Homo sapiens: one gene and its partners. The protein of the gene in region 1 interacts with the protein of each later gene in a pairwise test. Each region holds a gene or a part of one and is shown in the gene's direction. Other genes may lie near its edges. The genes, in order: PTK7, PTPN7, PPM1K and CTDSP2.

Evidence for each region.
Region 2: the proteins of PTK7 (region 1) and PTPN7 interact in a two-hybrid assay, tested with the Homo sapiens proteins (one study listed by BioGRID and IntAct).
Region 3: the proteins of PTK7 (region 1) and PPM1K interact in a two-hybrid assay, tested with the Homo sapiens proteins (one study listed by BioGRID and IntAct).
Region 4: the proteins of PTK7 (region 1) and CTDSP2 interact in a two-hybrid assay, tested with the Homo sapiens proteins (one study listed by BioGRID and IntAct).

The regions. Positions count from the first base shown.
Region 1 is NC_000006.12:43,079,154-43,086,909, forward strand, and holds part of PTK7 (inactive tyrosine-protein kinase 7 isoform a precursor), read left to right. Parts: intron 1-7,756. UniProt on the Homo sapiens protein: Inactive tyrosine kinase involved in Wnt signaling pathway. Component of both the non-canonical (also known as the Wnt/planar cell polarity signaling) and the canonical Wnt signaling pathway.
Region 2 is NC_000001.11:202,146,147-202,150,989, reverse strand, and holds the end of PTPN7 (tyrosine-protein phosphatase non-receptor type 7), read left to right. Parts: intron 1-565; coding exon 566-679; intron 680-1,617; coding exon of another isoform or gene 1,618-1,755; intron 1,756-2,290; coding exon 2,291-2,384; 3' UTR 2,385-3,974; downstream 3,975-4,843. UniProt on the Homo sapiens protein: Protein phosphatase that acts preferentially on tyrosine-phosphorylated MAPK1. Plays a role in the regulation of T and B-lymphocyte development and signal transduction.
Region 3 is NC_000004.12:88,280,977-88,289,059, reverse strand, and holds the start of PPM1K (protein phosphatase Mn(2+)-dependent 1K), read left to right. Parts: upstream 1-4,498; 5' UTR 4,499-4,654; intron 4,655-4,834; exon of another isoform or gene 4,835-5,285; intron 5,286-8,083. UniProt on the Homo sapiens protein: Serine/threonine-protein phosphatase component of macronutrients metabolism.
Region 4 is NC_000012.12:57,843,512-57,851,632, reverse strand, and holds the start of CTDSP2 (carboxy-terminal domain RNA polymerase II polypeptide A small phosphatase 2), read left to right. Parts: upstream 1-4,903; 5' UTR 4,904-5,197; coding exon 5,198-5,261; intron 5,262-7,871; exon of another isoform or gene 7,872-8,121. UniProt on the Homo sapiens protein: Preferentially catalyzes the dephosphorylation of 'Ser-5' within the tandem 7 residue repeats in the C-terminal domain (CTD) of the largest RNA polymerase II subunit POLR2A.

The DNA.
Region 1 (7,756 bases):
GACTCCCTGAGAATAACAAAATCCAAGGGTGCGGCCAGGCCTGGTGGCTCACGCCTGTAATCCCAGCACTTTGGGAGGCCGAGGCGGGCGGATCATGAGGTCAGGAGATTGAGACCATCCTGGCTAACACGGTGAAACCCTGTCTCTACTAAAAATACAAAAAATTAGCCAGGCGTGGTGGCGGGTGCCCGTAGTCCCAGCTACTCGGGAGGCTGAGACAGGAGAATGGCCTGAACCCGGGAGGTGGAGCTTGCAGTGATCGTGCCACTGCACTCCAGCTTGGGCGAGATCGTGCCGAGATCGTGCCACTGCACTCCAGCTTGGGTGACAGAGCGAGACTCCGTCTCAAAAAAAAAAAAAAATCCAAGGGTGCTCAAGTCTCTTATATAAAATGGTGTCGTATTTACATATAACGTACACACAACTTCCCTGTATACTTTTGTTTTGTTTTGTTATGAGACAGGGTCTCCTCTATCACCCAGGCTAGAGTGCAGTGGCACAATCTTGGCTCACTGAAGCCTCAAATTCCTGGGCTCAAGCAGTCTTCCTGCCTCAGTGCTCTAAAGTATGAGGATTACAGGCATGATCCACTATGCCCAGCTTCTCCTGTATACTTTAAATCATCTCTAAGGGCCAGGTTTACGCCTGTTATCCCACCACTTTGGGAGGCAGAGGGAGGAGGATCGCTTGAGCCCAGGGGCTCAAGACCAGCCTTGGCAACACAATGAGACCTCCACCTGTACAAAAAAAAAAAAAAAATTGCCAGGCATGGTGGCACGTGCCTGTGGTCCCAGCTGCCCAGGAGACTGAGGTGGGAGTATTGCCTGAGCCCAGCAGGTTGAGGCTACAGTAAGCCATGATTGTGTCACTGCACTTCGGTCTGGGTGACAGAGTTCAAAAAAAAAAAAAAAAAAAAGGGCAGGATGCAGTGGCTCACGCCTGTAATCCCAGCACTTTGGGAGGCTGAGGTGGGCGGATCATGAGGTTAGGAGAGCGAGACCATCCTGGCTAACATGGTGAAACCCCATCTCTACTAAAAATACAAAAAATTAGCCAGGCGTGGTGGCAGGCGCCTGTAGTCCCAGCTACTTGGGAGGCTGAGGCAGGAGAATGGCGTGAACCCGGGAGGCAGAGCTTGCAGTGAGCCGAGATTGCACCACTGCACTCCAGCCTGGGTGTCAGAGCGAGACTCTGTCTCAAAAAAAACAAAAAAATCTGTAAATTACTTGTAATACCTATTACAATGGAAATGCTATGTAAATAACTGTTGTATTCTTTAATTTGTATTCTTTTTTATTGTTGTATTGTTTTTAATTTTTATCTTCCCCCAGTGTTTTTGATCCTCTGTTGAGGGATGTGGAGCCCAGGGATAAGGAGTATATCTGGCAAAGCAGCAACTCAGACTCATTGGCAGGCCCTGTGGCCCTGGATGAACCTCTTAGCTTCTCAGCCTCTTCTATAAAGGGACATCCTAGAGTTGTGCTGAGGATTAAGTATAATGAAGTAGGCCGGGTGCAGTGGCTCACATCTGTAATCCCAGCACTTTGGGAGGCCAAGGCAGGCGGATCACCTGAGGTCAGGAGTTCAAGACCAGCCTGGACAACATGGTGAAGCCCCGTCTCTACTAAGAATACAAAAATTAGCTGGGTGTGGTGGCACACACCTCTAATCCCATCTACTCAGGAGGCTGAGGCAGGAGAATCACTTGAACCCGGGAGGTGGAGGTTGCAGTGAGCCGAGATCGCGCCGCTGCACTCCAGCCTGGGCGACGGAACGAGACTCCGTCTCAAAAAAAAAAAATACACACACACACACACACACACAGCCCTTTCTTGGTCTTCCCTCTGTGGTGTGCTTCAAAGATTCCTTCAGCTTTACAGTCATTCCCAACAATAGACATTTTACCTACTGGGACCCTCCATTCCAGTCCAGCTGGAATATTTGCCATCTCCTAACACATATCTGGTTTTCTCCCACCTTTCTTTCCTTCGGGCCAGTCCCCGGTTGTACATTGCCTTCTCCTGTCTCTCTGTTGCCCAGCCCCACCGCCTCTTCTTCCCTGAAGCTGTCCTATCTCTCCTGCCAGAAGGTAGACACTGTAGAACTTCTGGACTGTCATTCTTGCGACACCATCCATATTTTTGCCCCTATTGGGTTTTGTTTTAATTTACTGAGGGGCTCTCCCATAGAGTTTAGTACAGTACTTATTTATAATGGGTTCTTATGTAGGTGGTTTTTTTGTTTGTTGTTTGTTTGTTTTTGTTTTTTTTGAAATGGAGTCTGCCTGTGTCTCCCAGGCTGGAGGCATTGGCACGATCTTGGTTCACTGCAACCTCTACCTCCCAGGTTCAAGTGATTCTCCTACCTCAGCCTCCTGAGTACCTGGGTTTACAGGTGTGTGCCACTGCACCCAGCTAATTTTTGTATTTTTAATAGAGACGGGGTTTCCCCATGTTGGCCAGGCTGGTCTCGAACTCCTGACCTCAGGTGATCTGCCCACTTCAGCCTCCCAAAGTGCTGGGATTACAGGCGTGAGCCACTGCACCCAGCCGATATAACAGGTCCTCATATAGGTTTATTTAAAAAGTGAATGAACCATTTGGGTGCAGGGCAGAATGATCAAGGGTGGAGTTAAATATCCCCTTGCATCCTAGGCATGGGGAGTCTTTTGCACCCTCCCCAGCTTCTTTGAGTTGGGGTTGCCTGTTCCTCCTTGCGCCTGCTCTACGGTGACCAAATTAAGGATCAGACCTTCCTTCCCTGATCCTGGGCTGGCTGGTTTTGGTGGTGGTTTTTCTCAGTTTTGATGTGGTGGGTCTTCTAGCTTTCTCCAAGTTCTGTGCGTGGGTAAGCACCGCTACGTATGAAGCTGACTGCAACTTAAAAACTGGTGCTAAAGTTGCTTCCTCAGAGAACTGGGTAGGGGCCTAGAGTATCTATAACTGTGCTACTTGAAGAAAGACCCAGGGCCACGTGGCATCAGCATTCCTGGGAGCATGAATCAGAATCGCAATCTGCAATTTATTTATTTATTCTTTTTGAGATGGAGTCTCACTCTGTCGCCCAGGCTGAAGTGCAGTGGCACGATCTTGGCTCACTGCAACCTCCACCTCCTGGGTTCAAGCGATTCTCCTGCCTCAGCCTCCTGAGCAGCTGGGATTACAGGCGCGCACCACCACGCCAGGCTAATTTTTTTGTATTTTTAGTAGAGACAGGGTTTCACCATGTTGGTCAGGCTGGTCTCGAACTCCTGACTTCATGATCCGCCCACCTCAGCCTCCCAAAGTGCTGGGATTACAGGCGTGAGCCACCGTGCCCTGCTGCAATCTGCATTTTAACAAGATGCTCAGGTGACTCTGTACCCCAGAGTTCCAGAAGTCCTGGCCTAGGCATCCTTCTTTATACAGAATCTCAAGGCACAGAGCTTTCCTGTTGCAACAGTATAAATTGGGAGCTGAGATGCTGCACAGTATTTGAAGATTTGCTTTAAATAACTCACTTTATGCGAACACTCCTTGGGGTGATGTGTACGCTTTAATATTACCTCCTTTGGGTTTAAATTGAATTAGATTTTGTCAAGAAATTTCTCCATTAAATGTGTGACTCTAGGAAGTCTGCAATATTCAGCCTGATGTTTAGCTCCTCTCAGAACCTCAGCTTTTCCTAGAGGAGAATACGGCTGATTTTATAACGAAAGCCAGTGGAGAAACTGGATTTGTTAGGCAGAAATTTGGTCGACAGACAACTTTTCAGGAATACATTTGGCTCATAAAGGGAGGCATGTCTCCGCTGGGCTTTGACAGCTGTAGTGTTGTTAGTCTTTGGAGCATTTCATATTCTGGAGTGAGGGGGTTTGTGTGAGTCTGTGTTTAAGCCAATGCAGCTTCTGTGAGACTCGTCTGGGATAGAGGTTGGCCGGTTCAGACTCTAGTGTTGGAGCCAAGAGCAGTTTGGGGCCAAGGATTCAGTCTTTGGTGTTTTCCTGATGGAAGAAAGGGTCATTAAACAAGGTTGGGTGTCCTTGGCCTGTGTCCCTCAACCTCCTGCTCTCCCTAACCTCAGTAGATGCCTCTCTGCTGCTGTGCCTGGGCACTACCCCTGGCCAGAGCCACGTGGTGGGGTTACAGGCTTGGGGCCACAGTTGCTGGCACTGGCCCTCACCTTGCCCTGGAGCTGCCGCCTGCCCTTCTCCTGATTCCTGCTCTGGCCCCCATCTGCCTGGTCCTTCTTCTGAGGGTGTGAAAGTCCTGCCATTGTAGCTGGTTAGAGTCCTATGTTGGAATTCTCTTGAGTTCACTGCTGAGCCCCCTGGCGCTTTGGTGGAGCTGGCCTGAGAGATGCCACAGCTAATCAGCGGTTTGAGGAAGCCCTCTGTAGTATGTCACTTTTTCCATCCTCTTTTCTTCTCTGCATTTAGGCCGTTTCCCTCCCAATAATGTTACACAGACAGCAGTGGGGCAGGGAGGAAGCTTGGTTCGAAGGGCTGACACACACACAGGCGCCTTTCCCCTCTCGCAACTTGGTTTTACATTGCTAAACTCTCATCTGCTGTGTGCATTAACTGGGGTATGTGTTGAGTGAACGCTCAGGTGACTAGAACGTCATCCACCAGGTGTCCTGCAGATCCCAAGCCCCTGTTAGAAGTGTAAGCCTTGATAAGCGGGATATGCACTCACAGGTTTAGGTGTGTATGTAATTTCTGAAGACAAAGTCCCGAGTCGCAGGGTAGGGATTGTAAGTTACATATTAGGAAGGTGTAGATATGTGTTTCTCAAATTAGAGTGGAGAGTATAGGGCAGGTCACCAAAGTATTGATGAAAAGTTTAGTTTCCTGGGCCTTACTGCAGACCTGCCCATCAGAATTATTGAGGGAGAGGCCAGAAAATGCATTTTATTTATTTGTTAGATTATGTTGCTGTTTTTGAATAGCTGATCCAGTTACATAGGCCAGATTTCAAAAGGAAACTGCATTTTAATTTTTATTTATTTATTTTTGAGACAGGGTCTCACTCTGTCACCCAGGTTGGAGTACAGTGGTGCAATCACAGCTCACTGCAGCCTTGTCCTGTTGGGCTCAAGTGATTCTCCCGCCTCCGCCTCCCAAGTAGCTGGGACCACAGGTGCATGCCACCATACCTGGCTAGTTTTTTAAATTTATTTTTTATTTTTAATAGAGGCGAGGTCTTGCTGTGTTGCCCAGGCTGGTGTTGAACTCCTGGGCTCAAGCTATCCTTCTGCCTCTGCTTGCCAAAGTGTTGGGATTACAGGCGTAAGCCATCACGCCCAGCCTGGAAACTGCATTTATAAAGAGCTTCCTGGAGATTCTTACCTACGCTTAAGTGTGAGAACCACTGGGTAGCCATAAGGAGAATTTATCAGTCTGAAGCGGAGGTGTGGTGTTGAGAAAAAGGGTGATATTAATAGTGGGGGGCTTAGGAGGGAGTTCATTCAAAGTGCTTCAGTGTCTTCTATGGGTGAAGCTGTCTGAGGAGGCATGGAATGCAGGAAGAAGACAAGATGGAGAAACGTGAATCAGATGAAGTATGAAAGACACCATTTGGTAAAGTGCTAAGTAGAATAGAAGAACATTCTAGAATGTGTGGGATGGTAAGTCTGAGATGTAGGAGCAAATAGGGGGTGGGAGGGCTTCAGAGAGGAGAGAAGACCCTACATTGCTGAATAGATGTAGTCAGTGACGGCCTCAGAATGATGAATAGATGTAGTCAGTGACGGCCTCAGAATGATGTAAAGTCATCGGACCAGGATTCTGAAAACCTGGGTGGTACTGTTCTAATATCACATGGCAGCCACAAGTGATGAAGTAATAGAAGAGACATCTATAGACCTGTGACACCAGTTTTTCTGTATTCTGGTCCTGGCTCAATTGCTGCATACCCACATGACCCTGAGCTGGTTAGTTAACCTTTCTGAGCCTCAGTTTCCTCGTGAGCACAATGCAAGTGATGCTGTTGCCTGCCTTGCTGGCCCCTGTGAAGTTGTGATATAATGCTCTTCAACTGTGGAAATGGGTGACCCCTGGGAAGCAGCCCCTCTGGCTAGCCCTGATGGTTCTTCCCAGAGACTGTCCTGGCCAGCCGTTTCCTTTTGAGGGGTCAGCCTTTCTTTTTTGAGATGGAGTTTCTCTCTGTCGCCCAGGCTGGAGTGCAGTAGTGCGATCTCCACCTCCCGGGTTCGCGCCATTCTCCTCCCTCAGCCTCCCGAGTAGCTGGGATTATAGGTGCCCGCCACCATGCCCGGCTAATTTTTGTATTTTCAGTAGAGACGGAGTTTCACCATATTGGTCAGGCTGGTCTTGAACTTCTGACCTCGTGATCCACCTGCCTCAGCCTCCCAAAGTGCTGGGATTACAGGCATAAGCCACTGTGCCTGGCCAGAGGTGTCAGCCTTTATTTCCAGCCTTCGGACCCTAGAATGGTTTGCCAAAGGCTCAACAAAGTCCCTCTTGACTAGCAGCCTTAGAAATGGTTTTCTCATTTGGGCTGGGTGCGGTGGCTCACGCCTGTAATCCCAGCACTTTGGGAGGCTGAGGCATGTGGATCACCTGAGGTCGGGAGTTCGAGACCAGCCTGACCAAAATGCAGAAACCCCATCTCTAGTAAAAATATAAAATTAGCCGGGTGTGGTGGCGCATGCCCGTAATCCCAGCTACTCAGGAGGCTGAGGCAGGAGAATCGCTTGAACCCGGGAGGCCGAGGTTGTGGTGAGCTGAGATTGCGCCACTGCACTCCAGCCTGGGCAACAAGAGCGAAACTCTGTCTCAAAAAAAAAAAAAAAAAAAAACATGGCTTCCTCATTCAAAAGCACAAGTTTTCTAAATGGGTCTCAGTATTCCAACAGCAGCCCAGAAATGTGGGAGCCACACACAGCCACATTTTCCTGGTGGGAATTCTCCCTCTCTCTTTGTCTCAATAGCAGATTCTCCCAAGGGGTGGGTTGGTGCTGGTTCAGGGCCACTGTCTCTCCTGGCATGCTGAGGTTCTCAGGGAGTGGGTAGTGAACTGTGCTTCAGGCAGCCTAGGCAGACTTTTATGATACCCAAGGGAGGGGTTTTTATAATCACTGGATGACTGTGGGGGTTTCCCCAGTCAGCGACTCTGTTAATTTGTGGGAACTTCTGTCTGTGCTGTGGGGAGGTTCCTGAGATTCTGTGTGGCCAAGGGCAGTGGGCTCTCCCTGGGGGTGGTTATGGGGGCCCGCATGGGCACTATCATGTACAACCTCCCCTCCAGGAGACACTCTGGCTTTTTTTTTTTTTTGTCTCCTCCTTGGGGTGGTGGCGGGGCAATGAGGGGAACGCTTGTCTGCTTTGGGACTGCTGAGGTGTCCCAGCAGCTAGCTCGTATGGTACCTTTGTGCACATTACAAATAAGTACTCCCAGTCGTGGGCGCAGTGGCTTACGCCTGTAATCCCAGCACTTGGGAGGCAGAGGCAAGTGGATCACTTGAGCTCAGGAGTTTGAGACCAGCCTAGGCAACAAGATGAAACCCTGTCTTTACAAAAAATACAAAAAAACTAGCTGGGTGTGGTGGTGCACGCCTGTAGTCTCAGCTACTCAAAGGCTGAGGCAGGAGGATTGCTTGAGCCTGGGAGGTCAGAGCTGAAGTGGGTGAGCTGTGATGTGATTGCACCACTGCACTCCAGCCTGGGCACCTGAGCGAGACCCTATCTCAAAAAAACAAAAAAACAACAACAAAAAAACCCTTCCTCCAGGTAGATGCAGTCCTGCACCAGGGT
Region 2 (4,843 bases), on another chromosome or scaffold:
GCACTGGGACATGTGCAGGGAGGTCATTAGGGGCTCACGCAAGAGGAAGGGGAGGCCTAGGGGGTTTTGAAATAAAGAGAGGGCACGATAGAGAAAGCAGAACAGAGTGGAGAGAAGACTGTGGGAGGGCGCCAAGGTGGGAAACAGAGGGGCCGGGCGTGGGCTGCGTGGAAGATGAGTCTGAGCTGAGAGGAAGTCAAGGTTAGATAAGGAGGGCTCGAGGGTCAGCACACCCACAAGTGGGAAACTGTCTGTTGGAAACCACTGTAGACTCAGCAGAAGGGAGATCGTCAAAATGTCCACAGGGACCAAAAGGTGGCCTGCAACAGGCTTACAGTAAGGCTGGTAAGAAATGTAAACTCCTCCCATGCCAATTAAAACCTGCCTCCAGCAGGGCCCCCAAGGGGACTGGAAAGCAGAGTACTGCTACCTGCCTCCATCTCCAGAGCCCTATCCCCAAAATATAGCACCTGCAGGTCCCATTTCTTTCTCCATAGTTTGGGGCCTGGCTCTCATATTCCCTGGTCTCCCATGACCTCCCTGTCCCCTCCCTGGCTATCTCCAGTGCAGGGATTGGCCGGACGGGCTGCTTCATCGCCACGCGAATTGGCTGTCAACAGCTGAAAGCCCGAGGAGAAGTGGACATTCTGGGTATTGTGTGCCAACTGCGGCTAGACAGGTGGGTCTGTGGGTGTAAACAAGGCCAACAACGTTAACGGATGGCATCAGTGCCTCTGGGCCCCAGAGTTCTGCTAGGCCCATCACCATCAAGCACTCCTGCAAGAAAGGAAGAAACCCTTTCTGCTTAGAGCTGTTTATTTTACAACTAACAACCAGGAAAAAATATCTATCTGGATGGCCGGGTGCGGTGGCTCACACCTGTAATCCCAGCACTTTGGGAGGCTGAGGCGGGTGGATCACCTGAGCCCAGGAGTTCGAGACCAGCCTGGCCAACATGGTGTAAACCCTGTCTCTACTAAAAATACAAAAATTAGCCAGGCCTGGTGCGGGCCCCTGTGATCCCAGCTACTCAGGAGGCTGAGGCAGGACAATTGCTTGAACCCAGGAGGTGGAGATTGCAGTGAGCCGAGATTGTGCCATCGCACTGCAGCCTGGGTGACAGAGCAAGACTCTGACTCAAAAAAAAAAAAAAAAAAAAACAAAAAAAAGAATATCTGTCTGGAATGTTGGCTTGGATGCCTGGAATTAAACATGATATGAGGCAGCAACAAGTAGTGCAAAGAAGATCACTGGGTGGAGGCAGAGCCGGTGTTCAGATTCTGACATCTGTCTCACTGAGATGTCACTAGATTTCTCTGAGCCCCCATTTCTTTTTTTTTCTTTCTTCTTTTTTTAATAATAGAGATGGGGGTCTCACTATGTTGCCCAGACTAGTCTCGAACTCCTGGGCTCAACAATGCCCACTTGGCTTTGCAAAGTGCTGGGATTACAGGCTTAAGCCACTGTGCCCAGCCCCCACTTCTTCTTTATCTAGACAGAGATAATGGCTCCTTCCCCCAGAAAACTGTTGTAAGAAATGAGTTAACTTATATGAAAATGTTTTGGAAATGGAAACTACTATACAAATGTATGGAATCATTATTTTTACTTTTTAAGATTATTAGAAAGAAGGAAACTTGAGGCTCAGGAGTATTCCTGGCCCGACCCAAGGCTTCAGAGATCTGGTTTTGTCCCAGGAGCTGAGTGGATCAAGGAAGACCAAGTGTCAACATGGGGCATCACCCCTCAGCACGTGTAAGGGGCAGAGGACTTCTCTCACAGCAGATCTGAGGGGCAGCAATGAGGAGTAGAAAGTAGAAAAGATGAATATAGGTGGTGGGGCATGGTGGCTCATGTCTGCAATCCAAGCAGTTTGGGAGGCCAAGATGGGCCAATCACTTGAGGTCAGGAGTTCAAGACCACCCTGGCAACATGGTGAAACCCTGTTTCTACTAAAAATACAAAAATTAGCTGGGCAAGGTGGCAGGCACTTGTAGTCCTAGCTACTCAGGAGATTGAGGCAGGAGAATCACTTGAACCTGGGAGGCAGAGGTTGCAGTGAGCTGAGATCATACCACTGCTCTCCAGCCTGGCTATCAGAGTGAGACTCTGTCTCACAAAAAAAAAAAAAAAAAAAAAAAAGTGAAAAGATGAATATAGGCAAAGGAGTTGGCATGTTCTTTGAGAAAGTCAGGACTTTCCCAGTAGGACCACAGGGATGTTTGACTGGAGCCATTCAGCCAGCACCCTGACCCTCCTTCACTCATGGTCTGTGTGTTTCTCCTTGCAGAGGGGGGATGATCCAGACGGCAGAGCAGTACCAGTTCCTGCACCACACTTTGGCCCTGTATGCAGGCCAGCTGCCTGAGGAACCCAGCCCCTGACCCCTGCCACCCTCCGGTGGCCCAGGTGCCTACCTCCCTCAAGCCTGGGAAGGTGGGTCTGGGGAAAGTGGGCCGAGTGATCTGGGGGTACCCCTTGGGTTGGTGTGGGGAAGGAGTGCCTCCTTAGTGGTGCTTGCAGTCACAGGAAGCAGCAGCAGTAAGGACAAGGGGCCGGATTCCAGGTCTTCAACACTGGCCACTCCTCTGCTTCCTCTGTTGGCCCCAGATGGACAGTAAGGGGAACCTCCAATGTCTCTCTGAACTTAAAGACAGGAGCTGGCATTTATGACAGACAAAGAAAGAAGCCCAGGTGTCCTGGTGTTCTCTGAGACACTCTTTGTGAGCTTCAGTTTCCTGTTCTATAACATGAACATAAGTGCTTAGCTGCCATGAGGGAAAAGTAATGAGAGAAGTTTCTAGAAGCCACTCCAGCCACTCCTTCCTGGGGCTGACAAAAGGGTGATTCCAAGATCATCCTTCACCCGAGGTCCTGCCCAAGCACAGGCCAGATGCAAGAATGGGGAAAAGTCTGGTCCTGATCTCCAAGTCTCAACATCCTATCAGTGACTCTGCTCCCTGACCACACATCGGAAGGGCTGGATGACCCCAATCAAAAGAAAGAACAAGGACTCTGGTTACCCTTGCCTCCACCCATGTGTCATAAGAGTAGGCTACAGAGGTGACCAGGCCTGGCAGTTGAAATCTCTGGAAGAGGGAACATGTGGGGACTACTCAGAGGCAAAGAGGAGCTGCTCCTGCCTCCATGGTTGCTGGCCACTCCCACCAACTACTCTTAGGGAGGCTAAGCAGTCTCTGTTTTGCTTCCATGGCTCAAATAATACCCTGGGTATGCAGGACCCACTATACCTTGCATTTGCTGAGTACACCTAGAGAGCTTGGCTGTTTCCAAAAACAATCAGGGTCATAACCATCCATGCAGACATGGAGGCTCGGCTGAACCAGGACTCCTCACTGTCTACCTGAGAGAATGAGCACCCCTCATCCATCTCAGCATCAACACAATTTCCAGGGGACCTCAGGTCTACCTCAGGACTGAACGCCACACCTCAGGATTCCTCCTCCTTGAATCTGAGACTGGCTGCCCATTCTGAGATGGGGATGAAGGTAAGATGCCGCATCACCAGGCACGCCGCCCCTGACAGCTGCCTTGATACCAGCTCTCTGTGGAAACCCCCGAGGAGTTGGATCTGGAGAACAGCTGGGCCTCCTCACTCAGGACTTCTCTCCTGAAGAACACGCAGTGCTAAAACTGAGGATGATTTCCCTAATGCTTCTGCTTGGCCTTATGGAGGAGCTGCTCCTTCCTTACAGCCTTGGGGATGGACTTGCCCACACCTCCACCTCCCCTGAGCCCTGTGAGAGGCACGACTGTCTATGCCAATGAGGCTCGGTGGGGGGCTCTCAAGTGCCTGATCCTGCCCTGGGCTCAGAGCCAGCCCAGAGGGAAGCAACTGCACAGCCCCACAGGCCCTCCCTGGCACTGTCCCCCCAACCCCATCTCAGAGCTCAGAGGGTACAAGCTCCAGAACAGTAACCAAGTGGGAAAATAAAGACTTCTTGGATGACTGACTCATTCCTTCTTTCCATCTTCTTCTTGGCCCTCTGGGGCCTCTTTGTAGCAAGAGAGAAAGACTGCAGACCAGGGACAGGCAGGCTGCAAATCTTTGCCCTTGGGATATGCACTTTTCTAGCACTTCCAAGGACATAAAGTAAGGTGAAACCAAAGTCAATTTAGGAAGTGAGACAGGGTGGACCCTCATAGCCTACCCAGGCAGCTGTAACAATTCACACTACCGTAAACCATGTGGCTTCTAAACAACAGAAATGTATTGCTGGCCTGGCGTGGTGGCTCATGCCTGTAATCCCAGCACTTTGGGAGGCCGAGGCAGGCGGATCACGAGGTCAGGAGATCCAGCTAACACAGTGAAACGCTGTCTCTACTAAAAATACAAAAAATTAGCCGGACGTGGTAGCACACACCTGTAGTCAGCTATTCGGGAGGCTGAGGCAGAAGAATTGTTTGAACCCTGGAGGTGGAGGGTGCAGTGAGCTATCATGCCACTGCACTCCAGCCTGGATGACAGAGCAAGACTCCATCTCAAAAAAAAAAGAAAAAAGAAAAAAAGAAATGTGTTGCTCACAGTTCTGGAAGCTGGGAAGTCTAGGATCAAGACCCTTGCAGACTCAGTGTCTGGCTATTAGGCAGAGCCTTCTTTCTGTCCTTGCATGGTGAAAAGGTTGTGGGCTGGTATTCTTCCCCCTAATCCCACCGGCCCCCTTTATAAGGCTCTACCCTCATGACTTAATCACCTCCTAATACCATCACTTTAGGGATTAGGACTTCAACCTATGAATTTGGGGGGACACAAACATTCAGTCCATAGCCTTTATCTTAGGAGCTAGAGGAGGACTTATAAAGGGCAGAGGTTAGAAAGATG
Region 3 (8,083 bases), on another chromosome or scaffold:
TCATATTTTAAAATAAAATCATTGCTGCAAGTTTAATTGCATCCAAGGACAAGATTTCAAATTCTCTCTCTCTCTTTTCTTTTCTTTTTTTTTTTTAAAGAGACAAGGTCTTGCTTTGTTGCCCAGGCTGGAGTGCAGTGGCATGTTCATAGCTCACTGCAACCCCAAACGCCTGGGATCAAGTAATCCTTCCACCTCAGCCTCTCAAGTAGTTGGGACTACAGGCATACATCACCATGTCTGGCTAATCTTTTTTTTTTTTTTTGTAGAACAGGGGTCTCACTATCTTGCCCAGGCTGGTCTCGAATTCCTGGCCTCAAGCTGTCTTCCTGCCTTGGCCTCCAAAAGTGGTGGGATTACAGGGATGAGCCACTGCAACAGACCTAAAAATTCTCTATGTCAGTGTTTTGGCAATTATCTTGGTAACACAGAGAAGGGACATCTGGGCTAGCAATTCAGGACAGAGCAGCCTGAACTGTGGAAAAAATACATCCTAGTATCCCAGGCCCATGTTTTAGGCATGAGGCCAAGAGTAGCCTACAGATACTTTTCTAGAAAACTGCTGATTCTGAGTATACAAAAATGTCCATATCTAATTTTAACAACAAATGATTCATTAGTGAATATTAATAATTCTGCAATTATACATACCACCCACCCACCCAAAGCCCTGTGAATTGTTTTGGGTGTAATTTTCTGATAGCCAGTGGTTTTCAGCAGATGGTCCAATTCTTTAAAATATAAACTGAGCTGGGCACAATGGTGCATGCCTGTAGTCCTAGCTACTCCAGTGAGGCGGGAGAATCATTTGAGCCCAGGAATTCAAGGCTATAGTGCACTATTATCACATTTGTGAATAGTCCCTGCAATCCAGCCTGGGAAACACAGGGAGACCCTGTCTCTAAAAAAAAATAAGTAAATAAAATAAAATATAAACTGAATAAAGAAGTAGCTCAACTTAATGAATGTACGGAGTGCCATATCCCCTTGATTATTTTGTACATTGTGCAGTGATCTGTCATGCCAAGTCAGCCTCTGTGGTGAATTCTTTTCCATTTTTTAATTTTTTGTCAAATACCAAATAATGATTTCCTTTACACATTATTCACATTTTAAAAGCTTTTATTTTAGGTTCTGGGGTACATGAACAGGTTTCTTATACAGATAAACTGCATTTCATGGGGGTTTGGTGTACCAATAATTGTGCATTTTATTTTATTTTTTTGAGACGGAGTCTTGCTCTGTCGCCCAGGCTGGAGTGCAGTGGCGCGATCTCGGCTCACTGCAAGCTCCGCCTCCCGGGTTCACGCCATTCTCCTGCCTCAGCCTCCCAAGTAGCTGGGACTACAGGCGCCCGCCACCACGCCGGCTAATTTTTTGTATTTTTAGTGGAGACGGGGTTTCACCGTGTTAGCCAGGATGGTCTTGATCTCCTAACCTTGTGATCCACCCGCCTCGGCCTCCCAAAGTGCTGTCACCTAGGCTAGAGTACAGTGGTGAGATCATGGTTCACTGCAGCCTGGACCTCCTGGGCTCAGGTGATCCTCCCACCTCAGCCTCCCGAGTAGCTGGGATCACAGGTATGCGCCACCATGCCTGGCTCATTTTTGTATTTTTTTGTAGAGACCATGGTTTTGACATGTTGCTCAGGCTAGTCTTGAACTCCCAGCTCAAGTGATTGGCAGCCTTGGCCTCTCAAAGTGCTGGGATTACAGGCATGAACCACTGTGCTGGCCATGAATTATTTTTGTGGTGTATTTAGCTATGCTTCAGAGATTCAAAACCCAGAAGCATATAATTCAAAAGAAGTAAACTGCTGGCTTTAATTTTAATGAGCTGTGGTAGAGTGTGAAATGGTGTGATTTTCAAAGGCAATTTCAAGGACTGTTTTAGTATCAAAGATATTCTTCAGAACAGCCTAAGTGGCTTTGCTTATCATGTGACTCTGGATTCCAGTCTGTTTTGGTACAAGGATTTAGCAAAGTCATGATGTTCTCAGATGCTGGGCATGCAAGTGGTTATAAAAAAGGTCAAAACTCCAGGACAATTCAAAATATTTTACACTTCCAAGCTTAAAATTTCCCACATCTTTCTTGTTACCAAAATTTTTCACATTTGTGAAAGCAAAGTCCTCATTATCTGCACCAAATTTTGATCCAAATGATTGAGATATTGCAACACATGATACTACATTATTGATGAGCAGATTTTTAAAAACTTAATAGTAACTTAGCTACCAAAATACTCCATCAAATGAAAGCCATCACCAACAGATATGTAGTAGAATGCTCATAGTAGCACTATCTATAATGGCTCTAAATGGCAAACTGCCCTAATGTCCATCAGAAGAATGAATTCATAAATTACAGTATATCCACAGAATGGAAAACAAAATGAATGATCTACAACTGCATACAACAATATGGAAGAATCTCACAAGTGTAATGTTGAGTCCAAGTAGCCAGAAACAAAAGAACACATACTTTATGGCTTTATATATAACAAGTATAAAGATAGGCAAAACTACCTATGCTGTTGAAAGTCAGCATAGAAACTCCCCTTGGAAGAAGGCAGTGCCTGGAAGGCAGGTTGATGGGGTTCCCAGGTATTAATAATGTTTTGTTCCTTGATCTGGGTGCTGGATACAAAGGTGTCTGCAGACTGTGAAAATTCATTGAGCTGTCTACACTTAGGATATGTGCACTTTTTAAGACACATGTTTCAATAAAATTATTATTTTTTTAAATTCCACGCCAGGTACAGTGGCTCATGCCTGTAATCCCAGCACTTTGGGAGGCTGAGGTGGGTGGATTGCTTGAGTTCAGGAGTTCAAGACCAGCCTGGGCAACATGGGGAAGCCCCATCTCTACAAAAAATATAAACATTAGCTGTGTATGGTTGAGCGTGCCTGTAGTCACAGCTACTTGGGAGGCTGAAGTGGGAGGATCACTTGAGCCTGGGAAGCAGAGGTTTCAGTGAGCTCAGATAGCGCCACTGCACTCCAGCCTGGGCAGGAGTAAAACCCTGTCTCAAAAAAAAAAAAAAAAAAAAAAAAAAAAGAAAGAAAGACAAAAGAAAAAAAAATCCAGGAAGTCTATGAAAAGACATCAACTCAACATAATATTACTCAAGGTTATTACTATAATTTGTGAGCCGTCAATATGAGAGTCACTCTCTAACCTGGTTATTAAATGCACTGGATTCAAAACAGTTGTCCCTGGCCTAGAATAACTAAAATGCCAAATCAAGTTAATTATTTATCTTTAAAATCTCTAATCTCTCTGCTCTTCTCTCCCTTCAGTGATATTGTCATAGTTTAATCAAAGTCATCTTCCACCTTAAATTTCATCTGTCATCATCTCCTAATCAGTTTCCCAATAGCTTATTTTAACTGTTCTTTGCACACTAACCAAAGTGATGTAAAGTCTAAACCCAGACCCTTTCACTTCTTTTTTTCGAATGCCTCAATAGAAGCCCATTAAATTTAAAATGTAATGCCAACTCCAAGCCCCTGTCTGCCTCATCTCTCTCACATCATGCTGTTCTTTCCCTCCCTCAATATGCTGGAGACACTTTGGCTTTCTTTCTGTTCTTCCAAAACGCCGGGCTGTCTCACCGAGAGACCTTTGTCTGCTGTCCCCTCTGCCCAAAACAATTCATCATTTTATTGGTTCCATGGCTGAATGACTGATGGTTTAAATGCCATCTTATAAAGTTCTCATATAACAATCTTATCTGAAGTTATCCTCCAGTGTCCACACCATGCCTATTTCTTTCCTTGACATGATTAATTACTATTCTATGTGCTTGCTTACTTGTTGGTTTTCTCCCTCTTCTTTGTTAGACTGAAAATTCTATGAGGGCAGCTATCGTGTCTAGCTGTGTTAGGGGCGTATCCCCAGTGCCTAGCAAATGTATAGCATACAAGACGTCCTTCAATAAACACAGAAATACTTGTTTAATGAATTAATAGACATTCCCTAAAGATCACAAGATACCTGTTCAGCCACGAAGAAGACTGCACTGTGCACTGCTGTTCAAAGACATGGCAGTGAAATCAGATGCCTTTCAAACTCTAAGCCTAAGCAGTATTGGCATTCCGTTCTCGGTTTCCTGGCTGTCACAACTACAGTCCCTTAGCCCGAAGCGAAACCCCCTCCGCGCTCCGCCCGCTGGCTAGGTACCAAGTCTCGCGGCCCCACCCACCGCGCAAGCGCGCCCCCTCTTTGGCTGGGGAGCTAACCTCGGGAGGGCGGGGCGCCGCCGCGAGCCACCACTGGCACAGGGTGACGTCGCTCCGCCGCGCAGCTGGAAGCCTGCGAAGTCAAATAGCAGCCGCGGGGAGGCTCGTTCCCATCGGCATCTGTGACTGGCTGCGATCGAGGGCCCGGGCGGCCGGCCAGCCGTCTCGCCGAGTGCGGACTGGCCGGATCTGCTGTCAGTCAGCGGGAACAGACTTCTCCCTCTCCATCTGGTCAACTGCGGGAGAAAAATTTTCGAGAATTTCCAGCAGGCAAGGCAGTGGCCGCTTTGACTGCTTGCTTCGGAGATCCGAGACGACGGAGAAGGCACTCTTATTTACCGACCAAGAAAGCTCCTCCCCCGTCCTCCGTTAGCTAATTAAAACATTTTTCAGGGACGTAGCCATCCAGAGGTAAGAGCCTAGAGAGTGCAATTCATTTATTTCTGCTAACCATGTATGCTGTTCTTTATTGGCGGTCGCGGAATGGAGAGTAAACGGAGAAGGGTTTCCCGGGAGGTCGAAGGGGAGACGTCGGTTTCCGTTCCCCCGCCCCCCGAGTCGGCGCTTGGCCGGCGGCCTCTCGGAGTTCTCAGAGCGTCGCTTTCTTCCCTTTGGAGGTCGTGAGCAGCTCGTCGGGGTGAGGCGGGGCCCAGCTGGGCTGCCTGCGCCCCGGGCGGCGGGTTTCCAGCCCAGACTGCGCTCGGCCTTGAATGTGGCCGCAGGCTGGAGGGCCAGCGCGGCGCGAGGCGGGCAGGGTGGGTGGGCTGGGACTGGAGACCCTTGCCCGAGGCCCCGGAAGCGAGGATGCTGCGGGGTGGGTGCCGCGTTGCCTCCCGGGCGAGGGAAACGTGGCGACAACGGGCTCGGTACGCCCAGAGGGAGGTTGGGAGGCGGAGACCTGGCGGCAGAAGGTGCCGAGGGAGCCCAGCTATTTGCGAGGCTTCGCAGGCAGGCGGGCGTGTGTTCTTCCCACCGTGTGTCACCCTGACCACCCGCCTGTCAGGGCCAGCGAGCCGAGGCCAGGATCCTGAGCTGTACCCAGGTGAGCTTTTCAGGAGGTCCGGCATCGTGAAGGATGCACAGCCCCGGCTGGTTTTGATCCGAAGACTTGGGTTTTACTTTGCGCAGGGAGCGCTGTAGTACTCAAGGCGTTGTAGCTGGTGATGTCTTTTTCAGCAGCCGCTTTCTGTAGATGAGGGAATTCACCGGATGTGACAAAGAGGCTCCAGGTGGAAATAGCCAGGGAATTTGCAGTCTCAAAAGCTCCACGGGCTTTTCTGAGCCTCCCACTGCTAACGTGCAGCAAGGCCTCATCGGTTCTTTCCGTCAGGGCGGAGGAATGAGGCTGTCCTTCGGTTTCAGAATGAGCGACTAAAGTGACAGATTACAATGACGATGAAAAAGAGCAATGAGACCGGTAGCAATGGCTCACGCCTGTGATCACAGCACTTTGGAAGGCCAAAGCGGGCTTGAGCCCAGGAGTTCGAGACCAGCCTGGGCAACACATCGAAACCTCGGCTCTACAAAACATACAAAAATTACCCGGGCGTGGTGGCATGTGCCTGTGGTCCCAGCCCCGGAGGCTGAGGTGGGAGGATCTCTTGATCCTGAGTGGTCGAGGCTGCAGTGAGCCGAGATCGCACCACTGCACTCCAGCCTGGGCGACAGAGCAAGACCCTGTCTCAGAAAGAAAAAGAAAAACAGCCATGGTTTGTGGTGTTCTGGTTAGGCAGCTGTGGCAGGAAGAAGAGCAGCACGTGCGTGTGTGTGTGTCTGATAAAATACCTTAGTTACAATATTTGAGTAGTGAGTTCTCGCTAATAATTTTTTCTTGCAACCTTAGTCATTACTACTGATCACCCAGGCAAATTCCTTGACTGCAATCCTTAGAGACGAGGAAAGAAGAGAGGAGAGTGGCTGGTGACATAATAGACTGTGAAGGAAAGTTCTTAAAGGCATTATAAAGTTACAGGTTTGGGATATAGTCTGTGGCTTGTATGCATATTTACTAACGTGTCTTAAAAGATATCTATGGGAATAGAATACTGAGTACTTTTCACTGCTCACATTTCACACTTTTCTCCAGTCACACATCTGAACATAGACATATTCACATTAAACCTAAGGGGAGTCCTTTGGAGTTTTTATTGTTGTTTTCTTTTTTCCCCTCAGGTAAAGCAGTAAATTTTCTTTCCCTTCCTCCTAGCAGGGTATTGAGAAAGAAGGTATTGGGGTCCCAATTAGCTGAAATACATTCTGGAAATTTCCATACTATTTGAATTTACTGGGATGCCTTAATTGATTTTCTAAAAAGGTCGATAGGTAAATATTTGGTTTAAGAATATTTAAAAGGGCTGTGTTCTCATTGTGGAAGTTGTAGATACCTAAATGCCACTTCATAATGGGCAGATAGGAATGCTTTCTTAAAATATTTTTTCTAGAGGGATAAAATCTAAGCAGGTTTCAGAACTTTAGAACTCCTGAATAATTTTGGCATGTGCTTAAACTGCCCTTTTGACCTGCTTTTAACATACAAGAACAGTTTAACTCAAATCCAGTGCACCTTCCTGCCAGAGAAAGTGCTTTCCTTTTGGATGACTTGACTTCCAAAGATTGAATATAATGTTAAAATGGTTTATAAAAATAAACTAGCCATGTTTTCCGATCAAAAAATTGACCTAAATCTCCCCTGCTTACTTAAAAAGATTCCTTCTCTCTCTTAGTTTGTGGAATAATGAACTCATCCCAATTTTTAATTGCTGAACTGACAAAAGACAATCCTTAGGTGTTTGCTAGTTTGTTCTCCACTCTTTTTGTTTAGAGAACACTGATTGCTTTTTTTTTTTCCTTAAGGTTTTTGTTTTTCACATCACAAGTTCTACTCCCCTTGCCTTGCTGGTCAAAGCATAGTCATTCCCATGGGCATCGGCAGAGCTGTGGGGTCTATGATGGCAGATCCCAATTGTGGAGTTCTGGAGGAGGAAACTTTTCTTAATGTGCAGGTTTAATTCAAAGTTGTTATTTACTTTGGGAACTCCAGCTGCCTTTGAATTGTTTCTTAGGGAATATGGAGGGGATTGATATGATTTAGTTACATTGCAGATGGAAAAGGACATGGAGCCAGTTCGTAACATCTCGTTTACCTAAGCGATGCCGACCTGTTTGTTTGTTTTTTATAAACTAGCTATATATCTGGGTCACATTTCATCTCTGCCAATAATATGCCTTAAAGTAGGTGGTTTCCTATGACTGCCTGCTTTCTGAGATGATTATAGAAACAATACACGAGGAAGGATGCCAGGTTGATGATTGATTTTAAAATACGCAGGTTTTTAGCCTTACAGAAACTGCTCAATTTGCATTTTATCTCATTTCTTAAAAATGTTTCCAGTGGATATTTGTTCTCTGTGAGAATGCAGTTCTATTTTATTATTTAAAAAAAAATTGGGGGGAGGATAAAGAGGAGATAAAACGGCAAGAATATACTAGAACAGTTGCAGAAAAACTTCAATATTTATTTATTTGTAATTCCAGAACTCTGATTTAAAGTAGGTGCATGACTGCAAAGTAGCTCAAGGCTGAATATGGCATATATACTTTCAGACCGAAGCCAAAAGAATAGTATTTTGCTAATCTCAAGTTAACTCTTCAAATACAAATATTTTCTAATAATTGTATTTCTTTAAAGTTCTTTTTTTTTTCTATATGATATAAAGCTGCTTTGGGAATTATCTCCAAATAATTAGTACTTCCATTACCTGGTAGATTGTATTGTAGTTTGAAGTCTCAATTCATCACCTATAATTAACATAATTGGGTTTTTAAATTTTTTTTAACACA
Region 4 (8,121 bases), on another chromosome or scaffold:
AGGAGCCATTGGTTTTCAGGACTGATAGGGGGTAGGCATGAGTTAGGTGGGAGAGAATTGGGTGACCTCAGGTTTCTGGCTTGGGGAACTGGGCAGATGATGGATGCAGAAGGAACAGCTTTGGAGGAAAGGAGAATGATGATGATGAGCATAGTGTCTATTAAGCACTCAGTGTTTCAGGCATAAACACTTCATACATCATCTCATTTAATCCTCACAATAACTTACAAAGTAGGTACTATTGTTCGCTCCATCTTAAGGGAAAACTGAGTCAAGAGGTTAAGTAATTAAGCGGTGGTGTTGGAGTGATGAGCATGCCTGCACCTTGCAGGCAGTGAGGTTTCCCACGCTGTTGCACAGAGGAGCTATCCCCGCTACCACTAGCTCCTCCCTCCCTCTGCAGCCCTCAGCATCTGGCACCCTCACAGCAGTTCAGTCATTAGCCACTGGGTCTCTCTCCCTCACCCCACCCCATCTCAGCCCCGATACTCTGCCCTGGGAAGCCAGGACAGGACCATACCATACAAGCCTTGTGACAGGAGGGCACCAAGCTCTGGAATCTTGGCATTGACATCCACCTACTCATGAACAATACAAAGCAGAACTGAGACTGCAGGGACAATCAGAAAAACCAAGAAAATCAATGTGTTCCTTTTTTTAAAAAAAAAGTTTTTAAGAAAAAAAGTAATATTTCAGTGACATCAGAGATAATCATGAAAGGTCGGTAGCCCAACCTTGTACTTATTTTCTGTGGGGAAAAGGGCAATTAGGCATCTCCCATGGAGGAAGCTCCTCCAGCTGTTTCCCTTTCGCCAGCCTTGGCTCGGGACACCCAGTCCGACTTCAGTAGCCACAGCAGGAGACAGACAGGGACAGCCACTCCATGTTTGCCCCACATAGCCCCCCATTCTAGCATTTGGGGGTAATGGGGACACTGCTGTTGTTTCCAAATTGCCTCTTACCAACCATGCAGTCAGAGAGGCCAGAGGAAAGGGGATACAGCAGGTAGGGAACCAAGTGAGAGTCAGTGGGCTTTCTCCTGGGAGAGTTGTTAGACCTGGCTTCAGCTATCTCCCTTGAACCACCTAAAATGAACCACCTAAAGTTACACAACCAGCAACTGGCCCAGGCCCCGTAGGCAGGATGTTATTTTTGAGGCTATTTTAGGCAGAAGTTAGAAGGTCCACTTGCCTCCCACCACCCTCACCACTTCAACTATAGGAAAGAGGCCCACCATGACCCTACAGAGCTTTCCAGAGTGCAGACCTTTTCCTAGTCATCTGTGGACAGAGCAGTGAGAAGCCTGTGGCATCAAGAGAGCAAGCCCCACCTATGTTTGGGGTTCCAGGCTCCAGTAGCGCCTCCACTGCTTTTGTAGTCTCTGGAAGCACAGGGGTCCTCACCAGGCCTCTTGGGAACTGCCCCTCCTCCCTCATTTACCCCTCCTTGCTGGGTTCTATTTGTACCCTTGTGCCTCTGGCCTTGGAAGGGGTTCTATCTGTTATACATAAATTTTTCTTTGACCTCAGAGCAAGAAATGCTTGAGGACCATCTCCTCTGCATCTTTCAGGGACAGCCAGAGCCCTGAGACACACATGAAGGCATCTACTGCATCCAGGAGTGAAAGTAGCATTGTTTTAACACTGGGTCACAATCCGGTGGTGGTTTGTGAATTCAATTTAAAAGGTCATGGCTGGCACCTTAAAACCATCAAATAGAACACAATACGTGCAATAGAAAATATGAGTGTGCACACATAGCCAGGGTAAGTATTGTCCATGAAACTTTTGTATCATTTATCTCACAACATAAAATGTGTTTCTTGCTGTAGGTCACTGAACAAATCCCTGGACAAAAGAACACTGGTTCAGACATAAAGTCAAGGCCAGGCATGGTGGCTCACACTGGTAATCCTAGCACTTTGGGAGGCCAAGAGGCAGGTGGATCACCTGAGGTCAGGAGTTTGAGACCAGCCTGGCCAACATGGTGAAACCCCATCTCTACTAAAAATAGAAAAATTAGCTGGGCATGGTGGCAGGTGCCTGTAATCCCAGCTACTCAAGAGGCTGAGGCAGGAGAATTGCTTGAACCGGGGAGGCGGAGGTTGCAGTGAGCCAAGATCACGCCACTTCACTCCAGCTGGGGCAACAGAGTGAGACTTCATCTCAACATGTACAAGTCACCTGTTCTGTGTTAGGCACTCTGCTAGGCACAAGAAATCCAGTAAAGAATAAGACATCCCCTAGTCTCAATCCACCTTCTGGTTGGGAAGCCAATAAGCACACAGTTGCAAGATAGGGTGCCAAGTGGTCTGAGAGAGTATGTATGAGGCTATAAAACCCTGACATGAGGGCGGGCATCTGGGAGGGCTTCCAGGAGAGGTGATGCAATTGGAGTTCACAGCAGGAAAAGAGAGCGATAGGTTCTAGTGTCTCCTCCATCCTATAGATAAGAAGGGAACTATGTTAAAGTGTCAAGGGTTCTAGTCTTAAAGTCCAAAGACATCCTGTCTCCTCTTCTTAACAAGCTGTGAGGTCTCAGGTGAGTCAATTAACCTTCCCAGACCAATTCCTCATTTACAAAACAGGCATCTATAAAAATGGGCATAATATCTGCTCTATCAACCTCAAAGAAGTGAGAGATCAAATGAAATAGATAATATATGTGAAAGTACTTTGTAAATTACAAAAGGGGAGGTATTGTCTCTATGGATGAGGAAATGGAAGCATAACGAAGTGAAGTGTCCTGCCCTACAGTGCTATGGGTAGCAGGCCCCTCTAAATCCTCAGTCCTCAGCTCCTGCCTGCATTCCTCCCACTGCAACTAATCTACCTTAGAAGAGGGCAGGGGAAGGGTCTAAAAAGGCCCCCATAGCAACCTGACTATTGAAGATTTACCTTAAAGATCCTATTGTTTTAATGATGGGAGGTGGGTATGTCAGAACTCCTCCGTTTCCCTTTCTGTTAATGAATTAAGATCTACCCAAATTCAGTGTTTAAAGTTACATAAGCATCATTCAGATCTGTAACAGCCACTTTCATTTTGGAAAAACAGCATTTCCATTAAAATGATGTTATATAAAAAGGTTTTGTATACGTGCGTAGGAACAGCAGAAACAGGCACACATGATCACTGTATGGCACACAGGCATATGCAGATCATGACCTCACCTGTCCTCATGAGGAAGGGACCATAGGAAGCAGGTGTCTGATAGTACCTGGCAAGCTTAGCTGTGACCTAGTTGTCCTCTAATCATCAGTAAGACCTGATGCATGTTGGGCAATGGGAACTGCAGCAGGAAGGAAGCCCCTTCCTTGGCAGGGTGAGTGCCACTGAATCACAGAATATTGGGGTTGGATTTAGCTCAGAAGTCACCCAGTGCAATCTCACTCTACACCACTCTTGCCGGCCTTGACTTGAACAGCTACCATTGTCCCAAGGCAGCCCATGTCACCTGTGGACAGATGTAGATCACTGGAAAAGACCTGATATTGAGCTGAAACCAGCCTTTCTGGAGCTACCACCGCTGGGGAACAAAAGCACCCACAACCTTGAGCAGAGACTCCAGGAGCTGTAGCCAGCGGAGCGTGCCCCGAGGCCTAAAGAGCAAGTGGGGAAGGCAGCCTGAGTCCACAAAGCTGAAGCTCCTCCGAGAGACCTCCATCCATCTAAAGGAAGCTGGGACTGTGGGGGCAAAAAGAGAGGGGTAGGATGAGGGAGGTAGGGAGGAGGGGCGGAGTCGGGGCCGCCTAAATGGGAGTAAGTCGGTGGGTGTGAGGAAAGCCCAGCACCTCAGGTCTCATTTTCAGTGTTTTGGGGGACACAGTCCCGAGGTCAGTTCCAGCTCTTATACTCTGGAGTCCTAGGTCCGCCCACACGCACACACCCCTTTCGGGATTCGAAGGTTGTACTTTTTTTTTTTTTTTTTTGAGACAGAGTCTCGCTCTGTCGCCCAGGCTGGAGTGCAGTGGCGCGATCTCGGCTACCTGCAATCTCCGCCTCCCGGGTTCAAGCAAGTCTTTGCCTCAGCCTCCCGAGTAGCTGGGATTACAGGCGCCCGCCACCACGCCCGGCTAATTTTTTTGTATTTTTAGTAGAGACGGGGTTTCACCATCTTGGCCAGGCTGGTCTTGAACTCCTGACCTCGTGATCCACCCACCTCGGCCTTCCAAAGTGCTGGGATTACAGGCGTGAGCCACCGCGCCTGGCCTCGACGGTTGTACTTTTATGTGACTTGGTACGTCCTTGATTCTAGGGCTAAGCAGGGGGGTAAGGTAACTTCCGATCCGCCCCATCCCCTGCTGGAGTCAGGTTAGGCTTAGCGGCTTGTCTTGGTCACCCCTGAAGGGGGAAACCTTTCCACCTTCCCCGAGTGCGCCCTCCGAGAAAAGAACACCCCAGCACAGAGCACCAGAACGTGAGCTTCGGAGCGGCCTTTTAAATAGTTGGGAAGGGGGTGTGGCCGAGGAGACTGGGAGGCCGCAGTCTGGCGCGGGGGGAGTGGCCCGGGGGCGTGGCCGTGGCGCCTGGAATGTTGTTAGGTCCTCTCACCGCATAGTAAGGAGGGGCCACGCCCCTTTTCTCCAAGAGAGCCAATCGGAGCACCGGAACGGTTTCAAGTCTCCCCCGCCAGCCTGCCCGCCCGCCACCCCACCCCCCTTGAGGATTCGCTTTTTCCGTAACAAAATAGCAAAGCTCCCGACTGTCCGCAGCCCCGGCCGCTCACAGATGGAGGGTCCCAGGGCCTAGGACGCAGCCCCCAGCGGGAAGCTCCAGCTGGCCGTGAAGAGGCCGAGTCGAGAGCCGGGAGGCGCGCGGGGGTGGGCGCTGCAGCCGCGGGTTGTTTATCTGGAGTACGGAGGGGAGGGGGGAGCCTGGAAACCGCCCCGTGTCCCATTTCCTCCTCTTGTTTTCGCTCCGGATTCTCCATGTTGGACCCAAACTGAGGAGCCCGGAGCTGCCGCTGGGGGATCGGGGCCGGGGGCACCCGGGGGAGCCGCTGCCCGGGCCGCCCGCCCTTTGTACAGGCCGCCTCCCTTCCCGGTCCGGGGAGGAAACGAGAGGGGGGATGTGAACAGCTGTGGAAGTCGGAGTCTCGGGAGCCGGAGCGGGCCCCCGCCCAGGCCCCCCAGCCCAGCCCAGCCCGCGCGCCCGCCCGTCCTCCCGCCCAGCCAGCCCGGGCCCGCGGGATTGTTAGATGGAACACGGCTCCATCATCACCCAGGCGCGGAGGGAAGACGCCCTGGTGCTCACCAAGCAAGGTAGGGGCAGCAACTTCCCAAAACTTTGCGTCGCCCCCGGGCGCGGAGGGGGCTAGCACAGCCCCGAACCCAGGTCTCGGCCCTTGACCTCCAGGGCTTAGAGCCAGCGATCCCGACTGGACCCCTCCGGTCCATCCGCCCCCGCATCCCGGCTGGCACTCAGACCTCCGTGGGGGTTGCACGGGGATCCCGGCGCCCGAGCGGAAAGGGCGTCTTCGGCGCAGCTGTCACCCTGTCCCGCAACCCCTCCCCCTCGGGGCTGAGAGACGGAGGGGTAGCTCTCGAAGCACTGGGCCACTCCGCGTCCACCGCCTCCGGAGTTGGGGGTGGGGTCGTCACTTTCCTTCACCGCCGCGCGCGGCTGCCCCGGGATCGCGGGGAGGGGTTAGGAAGGTGACAGAGGGAGCCCCAGGTGGAACGGAACCGAGACTGGAGTCCAGCACTTGCAGGCCCCCCCAAGCCCGAGGTCGTTCGGGCAGCTAGCTGGCGGTGACGGCGTCCGGCGGGACTTGGGACCAAGTTCACCTCTTGGAGGCGGGGGCGGTCGCGGTGGGGGAGGGGCCCGGGCCCTGGCGCACCAGACGTGGCGGGTTCCCGGCTCAGCGCAGGCCCCGGGACCTTGGCGGCGTCGGGCTCCCTCCCGGCTGCCTCTGACCAGTTTCGCTGAGCAAACAAGCCCGACCCTGAGGCCCGGCCAGAGCCCCTCCCTGCCCGGTGCGCTCCCCCGGGGCCGGCGCTGCACACACAGAGCCGCGTTTGTTTAGCCCGGGAGCGGTGTCCCTGGTTACATAATTCGCCGGATGGCATCAGACCCGGCGTGGTTCTGAATCGCGCAGCGAAAAAGTGCGAGTTCTCTGTGGGCAGCGGCTGGCGGCCCCCGCCTTCCAGAGCGTCAGGTGGAGGCGCGAGGGGGCCCGCAGGCCCTCGCGGGGGTGAGGCGGAGGCCGAGGCCTCTCCCGGGGCGGGAGAAAGCTGGGGCCCGAGGGTGGAACCTCTTAGTTTGGTCACAGTGGGAGACTCGAAACTCTTTCCCCCTCCGCCACGTTCTTCTTTTGGCCTTGAGGAATGTGTCCAAAATAGCGGCAGATTTTCCGCGGGGTGTAAGGACGAGTGTGGCGTTTCTCTAGAGAGCCCCCCGACCGGGGCCACCTGGCCCCGGAGGCTGGGGCGGGAGCTGGCTCCTGGGGCCGAAGCCGGAGCGCTCCCTCCCCTTCTCCACCGAGCGCGAAGGGCCGGTGCTGCAGTTGAACACACTGAGGCCTAGAGCCTGGTGGGCGGCCAGCTTCGGGGCCTCGTGCGCCCCACGTCTCCCCGTTTGGCAACATTAGTCAGCAGGTCACTAATTCCTGGGGTTCACGTTCCAAGGAGCTCCCCCAACTTCCCTAGGGGCAAATCCGCTGAGTTGGTGGTGTCAGCCTCTCCCAAATTCCCTCAGTGGAACGAGAGGAGCTGGGAGGGGGGAAGGGTGGGGGGAGGGAGGCAGTGTGTTCCTCTTGCATCACTGGCCGGACTTTAAATAAGCCTGCCCTGAGAAGGGATGGCCTTGCCTACTCAGATCCCAACCCCCGAGAAGGCTCCGGCCTCCCTGACCTCGGTGTTGCCATGATTTCTGCTCTCCTGGCTGCATCACTAACCAGGCTGTGACCCAGGCAGCAACTTCACCGCCTCTGCTGGCTGCTCAACTGTGCTGATGGCTGAAAAAGGAAGGGAGCCTGCGTGTGTTTATAGCTCACTCCTGACTCTTCCCACTCCCTTTTTATCCCAGGAAAAGACCCTAAGAGCTAGCCAGAGGGGAAGAAACCTAGATGTGGGGGGATTCAAGAGGGGGCAGTGGTGATGAGTAGGGGGAGGAGCCCTGTGCTTCCCCACTAGGTCTTCCTCTCTTGCAGGGACTCTCTTGCAGGGAGTGTGCCTTGGGCATCGTGGGGCCACGCGAGGAGTAAGGGAAAGCTGGACTGCGCCGGGGCATCTTAGAAATCAGAGCTGGAAGTTTCATCCACCAGGGTGAATGGCAGGCTACAGAATAGATAACAGCAGAAAGCAAAGCAACTGGCTTGACAGTGTTAAGTTGCTGGTGTTGGATTTTCTTGGAGTTAATGTTTCTCCTTTTTTGTGTGTGTGGTTTAAGCCAGCAGCCACTGGGTCTCTCCCTCCCCATGTAATTTTTTATTTTAATTGAGATGGAGTCTTACTCTGTTGCCCAGGCTAGAGTGCAGTGGCGCAATCTCAGCTCACTGCAACCTCCGCCTCCTAAATTCAAGCAATTCTCCTGCCTCAGCCTCCCAAGTAGCTGGGATTACAGGCGCGCGCCATCACGCTTGGCTAATTTTTTTGTATTTTTTAGTAGAGACAGGGGTTTCGCCAGTTGCCCAGGCTGGTCTCGACTCCTGAGGTGATCAGCCCCCTTCGGCCTCCCAAAGTGCTGGGATTACAGGCGTGAGCCACCGCGCCCGGCCCCTCCCCATGTAATTTGATTGCATTCCAGAGAAGACAGACTTTCTTCCTGGGCTGCTTAGGCACCCAGCAACCACTAAACCAACTTTCTGAGTCCCACATCATTTACAAACAAAACCTACGTCTTCAAAACAAAACAAAAAACAAAAGCTGGGGGACTGGGGAAGCAGATGTTTTAATTGGCTCCTTTTGGAGTTCCTTCTTCTCCCCACTCCGTCCTCTCCACAACATCCCATCTCCATGCCTTGCCTGCCTTTGGAAAAAGGGGAAGAAGGAGTGTGAGGTACTTATTATTAATAAGTAAATTTCTGGAAAGAAACAAATTGCTCCTAGCTTGGGTGGCTATTTAGTGAAGTTACTTGCCATTGCGGGTTTTTTTTTTCTTTTTTTAGCATTCTGTTCTCTG